Regions from separate parts of the Homo sapiens genome. Here region 1 is linked to region 2. Evidence: fine-mapped expression QTL. Tissue or cell type: whole blood. Region 2 holds a variant in brackets; the other region holds the start of a gene. All regions are shown on one strand. Distances are from middle to middle.

Evidence for each region. PIP is the estimated chance that this variant, and not a neighbour inherited with it, causes the effect.
Region 1: it holds the start of ITGA6, and the variant in region 2 is fine-mapped to the expression of ITGA6 in whole blood (TOPMed, PIP above 0.99). The same link has a PIP of 0.9 or more in blood mononuclear cells.

What each region holds. Positions count from the first base shown.
Region 1 is chr2:172,424,859-172,430,234 of GRCh38, reverse strand. ITGA6 (integrin subunit alpha 6) reads right to left here and starts at 2,649. Exons shown (of 26, transcript NM_000210.4): 1 at 2,265-2,649. The coding sequence starts at 2,446. RefSeq lists an enhancer at 1,337-1,837 and a silencer at 2,622-2,701.
Region 2 is chr2:172,506,863-172,512,238 of GRCh38, reverse strand. The region is part of intron 1 of PDK1-AS1 (PDK1 and ITGA6 antisense RNA 1); the gene reads left to right. Among named protein-coding and RNA genes, the nearest start is that of ITGA6-AS1, 44 kb to the right of the region's middle. The variant C/T (reference allele first, on the strand shown) is at 2,534.

The DNA.
Region 1 (5,376 bases), 82 kb after region 2:
TACCCATGCCAGACAGGCATTAAGCACTTTGCATATTATCTCTTAATCCTCATAATAACCCCAGTAAGCAGTAATATCTCCATTTTACAGATAAAGAAATTAAAGCTCAAAGTAAATTAACAGCTGCTAATAAAAGGCCGAGAAGGAATCTCAGCTTAGGTCTCTCTCCCACCAGGTCCCTGAAAGACCCCCACTGAGTTTTTCCATAGAGTTTAGGAAGCTGGTCCAGAAGTTTTCTCAGTCTTACTGGCTCTGCCATTTACACCCACATTCTTTACTGTCAAAGGTTGACAACTGACCTGTGCTATGGCCTGTGTGTGCTGGTTCTCCTGGGAAGACCAATGCTATTCCTGAAGCTGGAATAAAGCTTTACAAAAGCATGGAGGTGGGCAGCACGTGACATAAACCACAGCCTCTTTAAAGTGTGGTCACTGCCTTTGGACTCTAGGAAACATACAGTCTCCTTATACGGGGCCTCTCCCCTCTGTCAGCTGCTAAGAAGAGCTTTCCTAGAAGGCATCAGACCCCATTGCAGGCTTATCCTTACCTCGGGAGGAGTTGCCTCAGCTCTAATACCAGAGAAGCCCAGCAGCAGTAACAAGTTTTAGCAAGCATGCTGCTAACCTTCACGACACAGATTCCTGGCAAAGTCACGTTTCGCAAATCTCCACTGCCAGGATATTTCTTGTCCCAGTACTTTCCCTTCACACTTTTTGCTTGAACAAGTATTTCAAGGAAGCCACCGGTTTCAGTGGGGCTCTGGTGCAGAGAGAGAATGCCCAGGAGAATGAATTCCCTCTGCTGGCCCACAATCATTTCTGCACTAACAAGCTCAAATTCTACACACCAAGTATTCCGAGACAATAAACGTCATCTATTAACTGAGTTAACAGGAACCTTTCATTTCAGATTTACAGCTTAACAACAATTATTTCTGAGAGAAAGCAGAGTATAAGCAGCTGGCCAGGCATATAGCCTCAGACCACCCTCCTAGAGCCTCCCCACCCCCAGCTAATTTCTGTGCTTCACCTAGCAGGTGTTATCAGAAAAAAAAAAAAACTGACTAAAATTCAGGGGCTGCAACATTCACGAATTCCAAAGTTGTTAACCGCTGAAATCAAGAGGTTTCCTCCAGTTCTAAAATCCCATTCGCCTCTCCTAAACACAAAATCTCTTCACTGTGGCTGCACTTTGCTTTCTCCGGTCTGTTGGTCCTGGAAGGTCCTTAGTTCAACTCAAGGCCTGGGTGGGGAGGGGAGACCTTTTGTTGCTACAGCCTATTTTTCAGTAGCACAGATGAAGAATGCAACCCCATAGCGATTAAGGCGACTAAGCGCCAAAATACCCTCTCCGGCTTAAATAGCCGATCATGTGGGAACCAAACACTGTTTAAGAAATAAAAGGAGAGGCCAGTAGTGCCGGTCTCCTCTTTCTCCTGGGAGGTTTACCGCTACGGTGGGGGGTTGTCCCTTACAAACCTTGTTTGCAAAGTCCAGGCTCAGATCGGACATTTTGCTTTAACCCCTTGGCTGTGCCCGCCCAACGCAGGAGCCGAGCGGGTCTCGGGTGCGGCCGAGTACTTTGGGGGCTGGGCACATCACTCAGACTTGTTTTCTCAGCTGATCTAGTCCAGCGAACAGGTGTTTGGTTAATTCCCGCCCCCACCCCCATCTTTTTTTTTTTTTTTTTCAAAGGCATGTAAAAGTATCTCCTAAGGAGCGCCCCCGCCTTGCTGAGAAAGTCATGCAGGACACATGGAAAGTGGCTTTCCAACTTGTGCGGGGCGCGCCAGTCTGCGGGGGAGACGGGGTGCACCGTGAGTTTGGGAAAGGCCTAGACCATCCTGGAACTACGCTCCCTGCAAACCCACAGCAGCGCTGCGGTGACCCTGAACGCCACCCCAGCCCCAAACACACACGTGAAGCTCAGCAAAGCGTGCCACCTGCCGGGGTCCCAGCAAACACGCCCGGAGGGAAGAACCGGCGGAAAGCACTTTGTTTAAAACAGAAAAAAAAGTAAACTCTCCCGGGGCCCAGCCTAGCCCTCGGGTTCTCCTCCTTCCCGAGCTGAATGGAGGGAGGCGCCGCGCGGGGCGGGTCAGGGCGGGGAGCCGAGCGCGCTGGGCGCTGGGTGCGCCTCGGCCGGCCCGGGCGCGACCCACGGGCCAACTACTCCCCGGGGCCGGCGGGAACAGGGCGCGCCCTCGCCTCAACTCGCGCGCAGGCCGGCGCCCCAGTGGGGGTGGGAAGGGTCTGGGAACTCACAGCCGCTTGTCCTCGGGCTGCAGTTGCCAGTGCATGGCCAGCGAGAAGCCGAAGAGGCTCCCGGGGTCTCCATATTTCCGGATCACGTTGTCCTCCCGAGTGTCCAAGTTGAAGGCTGCGCCGAGCCGGGACAGGAGCCCCGCCGACAGGTAGAGCAAGCACAGCTGCCCGGCGGCGGCCATGGGCGGACGCACGGGGAGGGGAGCGGGGACCTGCAGCGGCCGCCCTGCGCTCCGGGCTGGGTCCGAGGCTGCCGCGCTGCTGCTACCGCAGCCACCTTCGCCTCCTCTCGCCGCTGCGCCCGGCCCCACCCCCGGGACGGGTCGCGCTCTCCGTCCGGCCGCTCCCCCTCGCGGGCAGCTCGCGACCGCTGAATGAGCCCGTTGTTCTCTGGAGACTCGCAGGCGTTTTATCAAGTGACGAGGACGCCGGCCCCGCCCCTCCCCACCCTCTCGCCCCTCCTTGCGCGCCCGCGGCCCGGCGCACCGCCCGCACCTTACCCGCCGGCTCTGGCGTCTCCAGCTGCCCGGTACCTGCCCGGAAGCCACGACGTGGGAGCCCCGGAGGCGAGCTCGCGGCGAAGCAGCCCCACTGCGCCGCCCTCTGTGGACAGAATTGTGGTTGCCGAGTAGCACAGAGCGAGGGAGACTTTACTACCCGTTATAAAGAGAAGTGCAGGTGATGCACCGGGCCTCATGGCCTGAGCAGCCTGTTCTTGCAGATGTGGGCCCACGTGCAGATGCATACGTCATTCATTCATTTCTACAGGTGTTTATGGAGCGCTTAAGGCGTGCCCAACACTTGGGGACTACAGCTGTGTAGACTGTTCTGGGTCCTCAAACACCTAACAACCCTCAAAAATGATCACAGCGCACACCTTGATAGTGCTGTATAATGTACACAACCCAGCCATTACCTCAATTCATCCTAACAGTCCTATGAGGTAGGTGTTTCTTTTTGCAGATCAGAAAACCGAAGTTCCGCCTTGTCCCCAGATCACCTAGGATTTTGCCCAGGTGACCAGGAGAGCTTGTGGAAGAAGTCACGCAAGTCAAGGATGGGTTGTTTAAAGTGGCGCCAGGAGCTCAGGCGACGATGCCGTTCTTTCCTAGCCCCGGACTTTCAGAACTAGTTGTGGGGAGAACTGCTGGGCCAAGAGACAGCTCCGAGTTCTGTGTAGGTGGCATGAAGGCTCCTGCCTCCAGGACATGAGGCGGGGCTCCAGTGAGGTGTTGGCCCTAGGGGCAACCTTATCCTGCAGGGGTTCTTAACCCGAGGAGAGGTAATTAATTCAAGAGTACTGTGAACTTGGATGAGAAAAAATTTACGTCTTAATTTTCACCAACCTCTGACATTTAGCACGTTTTGCCATTATGAACGTAGACAACAAACTACAGTAGCAGTAGGATAAGTATTTATGACTTAGTAATCACTAGAAACCATAGGTTTTTACATCACATCACAGTTGTTGCAAGTATCTCAAATAACAGTAGTTATTAGACAATCAGCCAGATATTATATGTCAATAATGAAGCATATATATTGCTCTAGCACAAATTTTTAAAAACATTTTGTTAGCTACATTTCAATATTATTGGCTTTTTTTGTAACCTCTTGTGGTTTCTTTTATGTATTTAAAACCCTTATTCTGAGAAGAACCCCATGGTTTTCAGCAGCCTGCCAAAGGGGTCCCATGGCATGAAAAGGTTGGGACGTGCTGGCCTGAAGCCTTCTGGAATGCCTTGGGGAGCCCTCTTTGGAATCTGACATCCCTGCATTGGAAATACAAGCAGGGTGCAGCCCCAGGAAAGAGCAGGAGCTGTGTGTGCATAGGGGTAGGGGTGGCCTCTTCTTCACCTCAAGGAGTATTCAAGAGAACAGCATGTGCCACTCAGAAAAGCTGCGTGAACATCATCAAGGGTCCCCACAGGTGGTAGCAGCTGTCAGAGTAAGTCCGTCAGTATATTAGGGGTGTGTACCACTTCCTTTCCAATCAGTAACTCCAGTCAATTATAGTCCAAAGTGGGGTGCAGTGGTTTAAATTCAGTAGATGATTTTGGAGAGCACACAGTTTTAACAAATATATCTTGATAAGGTTGAGAAACTATTGGAGACAATCTAGTAAACTAAGAAGTACTTGCAACGTGATTTTTCATGCAAATAAGTTGCAAGTTAGCCTTTTCCCTTCGTGTAAAATATGTACTATTCCAGAGAGATGGGGTCCAGACTATTATAGGCATAGTATAATGAACCTCACTGCAGAGTGTACTCAGCCAGGAGCTGGTGATTTGGCTGTAATGGTTACTGAAATATTCTGAATTGGTTGATAAAAGCTGCTGCCCTTAGTTCCTCACAGGCAACCATCCCTGCCCTGCCCATTTTCCTAGGACTAAGCAACTTCCTCACAACCTGGCAAATGAAAGTTTAAGCCCTTAAGCCCTGATGCAGCAAGGGCTCCCTCTGCTTGGATATCCCCATGTCACACCAGCTGTTAACTATTCTGAATATCACCCCTTGCTTCTAAGAGTAATTCTGTGGACCATTGATTCCTGTCTTCCCAAGATGTGTTTAGTGGATGATGTATGAATGGCCAGAGTTATTTACTTTATCCCAAACACAGATTGTGCTCAAATTGAAATTCTAAATAATATTAAATTTAAATATCACAACTACATGTATAGCACTACTGAAGCAAATTATGCTTGTGTGGGAAGAGGTTCAGATAAAGAAAAACAAGGCTGGGAGTCTTGTTCTGGAATATGTCAAGTGCCCATCGCAAATGGAAAACTTATTAGCTCAGTGCTCCTACCTGCCACCTGTCTCCTACCTACTTGAAGTTGAGTCAAACTCTCACTCTCAACATAGATGCCGAAGATACTTGAAGTTGAGTCAAACCCTCACTCTTGACATAATTTATTTGAAGATTGTCAGCTCCTTCTGACTATAACCATCAAGTTTTGGCCAGGCACAGTGGCTCACGCCTATAATCCTGGCACTTTGGGAGGCGAGGTGGGAGGATCACCTGAGGTCAAGGGTTCGAGACCAGCCTGGCCAAAATGGTGAGACTCCCCCCCACCCAACCCCACCACCCCGTCTCTACTAAAAATACAAA
Region 2 (5,376 bases):
TGAGGTCAGGAGTTTCAGACCAGTTTGGCCAACATGCTGAAACCCCCATCTCTACTAAAAATATAAAGGTAGCTGTGCATGGTGGTGGGTGCCTGTAATTGCAGCTACTTGCTACTTGGGAGGCTGAGGTGAGAGAATCACTTGAACTCAGGAGGTGGAGGTTGCAGTGAGCCAAGATTGCACCACTACACTCCAGCCTGGGCTATGGAGTGAGACCCTGTCTCTAAATAAATAAATAAAAATAAAAAATTCATATGTACAACCCTAGCTGCAAGGGAGTCTGGGAAGGTATTTTTAGCACCTCAGCCCTTCCAACTAGAAAAAGTATGGAATAGAGCAAGCCAGTCCACAGATATGTATCACAGTGGCTTAGGAGTTTTATTAATTTATGTGTGTGTGTTTTCTGGCATGAGTACTTGGGTTGTTCGTGGTAGGCACAGGCAAAGAAACACTGAGTTGCTGCTTGAGAAAGGAAATGTCAAGTTGCAAAAGCTTCTCTTTAAGTCATCCTGAACCTGTTCAATGTGTTTGTTTCATTACTGATTTAGATAAGTCTTTATAACCAGATCAACATGTCACTGCTTCTGTGGGTCAGCTACTAGAACTGGCACATTGTTTCCCATTCCGTTGTAATGCTATTCACTGTCATGGGATTTTCCTTCTCACGGGGCAGGAATCTTAAAAGCATGGCCTGTAAGAGTAGCCTACAACAAATGTCAGCTATCCTGTCAAGACGGTGAAAGCTATATATTTAGATAAACAGACTTAACTGCACCCCAGTCAGTCCTTATCCACACATTTGAGGATGTTAGGGGTTTGGAAGTTGTGTAGAAAGACATAAGACAGTGTAAGCCTAGGTTATAATCTTATTCCTTATACCATTATACCTTATGCCATTTTACAGGTGAAGGAATTAAGGCATCAGGCATTTAAACTTGCCCAGGTCATACAGTAAAAAGTGACACAATAGGGACTTGAATAAAGACTGGCTCTAGAGACCCTTGACACCCAAAGAGTAATCCATAGATCAGTAGTATTGCAACACCTGGAGGTTGTTAGAAATGTAGACTCTCAGGCTGTTTCCTAGACTGTTTAAATCAGAACCTGAATCAACAAGATCCTCAGGTGAGTCTTAGGCATGTTAAATTTTGAGAAAGACTGCTCTTAACTTCTCTAATTGAGACTTCCTGACCACCAGTGGCTTCCTCAGGTAAGAACCCCAGAACTTCAGTTCCATCAGCAATTTGAGGACACCTTGGCATCAGGCAGTCCCCCAATCTTCCTATGGAAGAATGCATGTATATGTATGTTTTTTGCCTTTACATAGTCTTTCAGTCCATGCATTATTGTGACATGTGGGAGGCAGGAGTTTTCAAATTTGTTCTTCCAGTGACAAACTCCGTTCTAACACACATGGTGTAACTCAGGTGCAAGATGAGCTCTGTGAGCATTTCCTCTTCTGCACAGCAGTAAAGGTAATAAGCAGTAAAACTGTGGCTTGCCTTCCCACTAAAGGAAACCAAAGAAATCGATGGTGTGTAAAGAACTCTGAGAAAAGGTTCAAAAAGAGAATCTGCTCTTTTCACACTCTTCCATGTCAGCGGGGAGAAAAACACAAAGATTCAATACCTAGCGATTTCAAGATGCTTTGTTGATTATCTTAACATGTCATCTTTCTGACCCCAACCGAAGACTGCATTATGGTCACTGTATTAAGGGTTGAGACAGAATTTAACATAGAAATAAGGTCACTCTTGTCGTTGTTCAGAATGATCTATGTTGATAAGGACTTTAAGAGGTTCATCGTATTTTTTTTTTGTAGTTATAACACCCACTAGTAAGACTTAAGTTGGTAGACACTGAAGAATGAGGAGACAAAAGGTTCCCGTGACAATAAAAATAAACCGTGTCTCCCCATCTGTGAAACGAGGAAGTAGAACTAGATTTCCATGCTTCCTTCCCTTTTTAAGATTTATGGTTCTATATAATAAACAAGGGTAAGTATAAAAGTAACTAGTAAGCACTTCCAGATGGTCCAATTTTCTCTTTACAAGAACCTCTGGGCTGGGTATGGTGGCTCACACCTGTAATCCCAGCACTTTGGCATGCCGAAGCAGGGGTGGATCATCTGAGGTCAGGAATTCAACACCAGCCTGGCCAACATGGCGAAACCCCGTCTCTACTAAAAATACAAAAAATTAGCCATGCATGGTGGCGGGCGCCTATAATCCCAGCTGCTTGGGAGGCTGATACAGGAGAATTGCTTGAACCCAGAAGGCAGAGGTTGCACTGAGCCAAGATCGTGCCATTGCACTCCAGCCTGGGCAGCAAGAGTAAAACTCCGTCTCGATGGAGCCAGACTCCATCTCAAAAAAAAAAAAAAAAAAAAAAAAAAAGAACCTCTGAGTGAGCACTTATCTTACAGGCCAAGAAACTGGGCACAGAGATATCCGTAACTCACCCAAGGTTATGTTCTAAGAGGAGAAGCTAATTCACACCTGCAGCGTGGCTCCAGAGACATGCCCTTATGCAC[C/T]GCTCAGCTGCCTCCCTGCCTATAGCAAATGCACCTCTAGCTTCTCAGCTCCTGTTACTGGTGCAGTGGAAGTACCACAAACAGGAACGAGGCATTCCACACAGTGAGCATATTATTTTGATAAATATTCACAACATCCAATAATCTCTAAAGTAGTTCTCAATCCTGGCTGCACTTTACGAGTCAGCTGGGGAGCTTTAAGCAGCGCTAATTTCTGGGTCTCACTCAGATTCTCATGTAGTCAGTGTGGCAGATTGTCCAGCCATCGGGATTTTAATAAATGTATTTCTTTGGTGATTTAAATGTGTAGACCTGCTTAAGAATGACTCTAAATTTTCTGGGAATGGGGTTGTTCTGGGGGCAAGTTCTGCCCACAAAGGTTCAGGTATTGACTTTATTTTTTTTTTTGAGACAGAGTTTTGCTTTTGTTGCCCAGGCTGGACTGCAGTGGCGCAGTCTTGGCTCACTGCAACCTCTGCCTCCCAGTTCAAGCGATTCTCCTGCCTCAGCGTCCCAAGTAGCTGGGATTATAGCCATGTGCCACCACCACACCCGGCTCATTTTTTGTATTTAGTAGAAACGGGGTTTCACCATGTCAGTCAGGCTAGTCTCGAACTCCTGACCTTATGTGATCTGCCTGCCTCGGCCTCCCAAAGTCCTGGGATTACAGGCGTGAACCTCCACGCCTGGCCAGGTATTGAATTTATGTGTCAATCATTGATATCTTAGGGTTTTAAATTCTGCTACCTATAAAAAGTGAATTCACTTATGCTTGTCAATACCATCTGTAGTTTCAGATAAGCTTCCTATAAAAGGTCAGAGCCAGTGTCTTACGTATATCCCCAGAGCCTAACATCCCTAAACATCTGTTTACTTCCAACTGGAAAATAATTATTAAATCACATCCCTCTCACAATGACAGGATCTTAACAGAACACTCACTTAAATCCACTTACTGATTGTTGGTGAACTGAAAACTTAAATTGCTAGGCTTTGAGATAACAACGGTAGCACATTCTGACACTGTAATTTCTTGAGATTTTTGGCACGTTTTAGAAGGCTGAAGAGTAAGAAATTTATCTGACCTCTCCTAGCAGGGAACTGTTTCCATGACCCCAGCACAGGCAGCATAACTGAGAGATGCCTCCAGGGCAAGAGAAGATTGAGGCACTTATGCTTTGCTGACTGCTACAAAAATTGCACTTGACCACTTGACTCCCTCAACTCTGGTGTAATCATCAACTATTACCTGGTTAGTTTTGCCCTTTGTGGTGCCTGGTCCACCCTTGCACTGGGCCACACCAGTTTCCTTCCTCTGGTTTGTGTTTTACAGTTCATTTACCCTGAGTCAAGAGGATTTGGCTATGAATCCCCTCATGATTTTCCTCCTAGATGAGGTCTATTGGTAGCACCTCCACAGACCTGGTCTCAGCTCCTAGTGTACAGCTCTCCCACCTTCCAACAGCTGGATGAGATGCCTTTTGGAGCTGGCAAAACCTGTTTAAGGTACAGGAGAGAAAAAGAACTTGCTATTAACCGTAATCAGAAACTACGGGAAGAACAGATGCCCACTAGCATGCAATAGCCACTCTTGAAATCATTCTGAAGTTCATTTTCTTCACCTCTTTGACCCTCACCTTTTCCTCATTCCAAGTGGTTGGACCCTGTCCTTTGGTCTTAAGGAACTGCTTTTAATCACTTACTTTATGCTCCCCAAATTGATCCAACAACTCTTCCACATTTCTGTTTTCTCAGCCCTGTGGATGTACTTATGTGGAACCCAACCACTGACAGCGTCTCTTTCCCTCCTTGAAAACAAGTCTCTCAATCCCGGCTTGTCTTCCCACATTGTCCTTTTGTGGGATAGTGTACTGGAGACCAGTTTCTCATTAAGATGTTTTCATTTAGAGTAGAAGGCTTGATCTTATCCTTACTTCCCTGATTTGGACAATTTTTGAGACAGGATCTCACTCTGTTGCCCAGGCCAGAGTGCAGTGGCATGATCATAGCTCACTGCAGCCTCAAACTCCTAGGCTCAAGCAATCTTCCCACCACAGCCTCCCGAGTAGCAAGGACTACAGGTGCACACCACCACACCTGGCTAATTTTTAAATTTTTTGTAGAGATTGGGTCTTGCCATGTTGCCCAAGCTGATCTCAACTTGTGGTCTCAAGGATCCTCAGCCTCCCAGAGTGCTGGGATTACAGGCATGAGCCACCATGGCTGGCAGTCTGGACAATCTTTAAAGCATTCCCCACCTATATCAACACCACATGCTAGAATATTCTCAGCCACAAGGGAAAAGCGTAAACCATGACTATGCACGACACACTGAATTTGCAGCAACTAATTTACAACCAATAATGAAGTATCAATGTTTGCAGTGATTCCTCTGTGAATCCAAATAGATCCAAGGATAACCCTGTAATAATTCCACAATCGCTGGTAGACGTTCCTGTAATTTTTGAGAGGGAGGGGAAGTGTTGGAATCACAGGCACTATGACTGGATGGGCCATGACTTACTTACAGTCTGTGTTATTTATGCCATAGCCCTAGTCAAACCACAGCTACTGATAGGCTCTATGAGGTTATGACGATTACATATTATTGTAGTGATTTAATCTGGGTATATCTGATATGTGAACTGAGGCTAAAAAGGTTCACAGCCACTGGCCCAAATCATTAAGTGCCAATCAATCACATATTTCTTTGGGTGGTAACACCTGTTTGATCTTCAAAGAACCAAGAAGGCCAAGATTTTATGTAATGCCAAGTATAGTGGAGAGCTATTACCTAATATATTAGACAGACATTTATTCAGGCCAGGGCACACTATATTGTC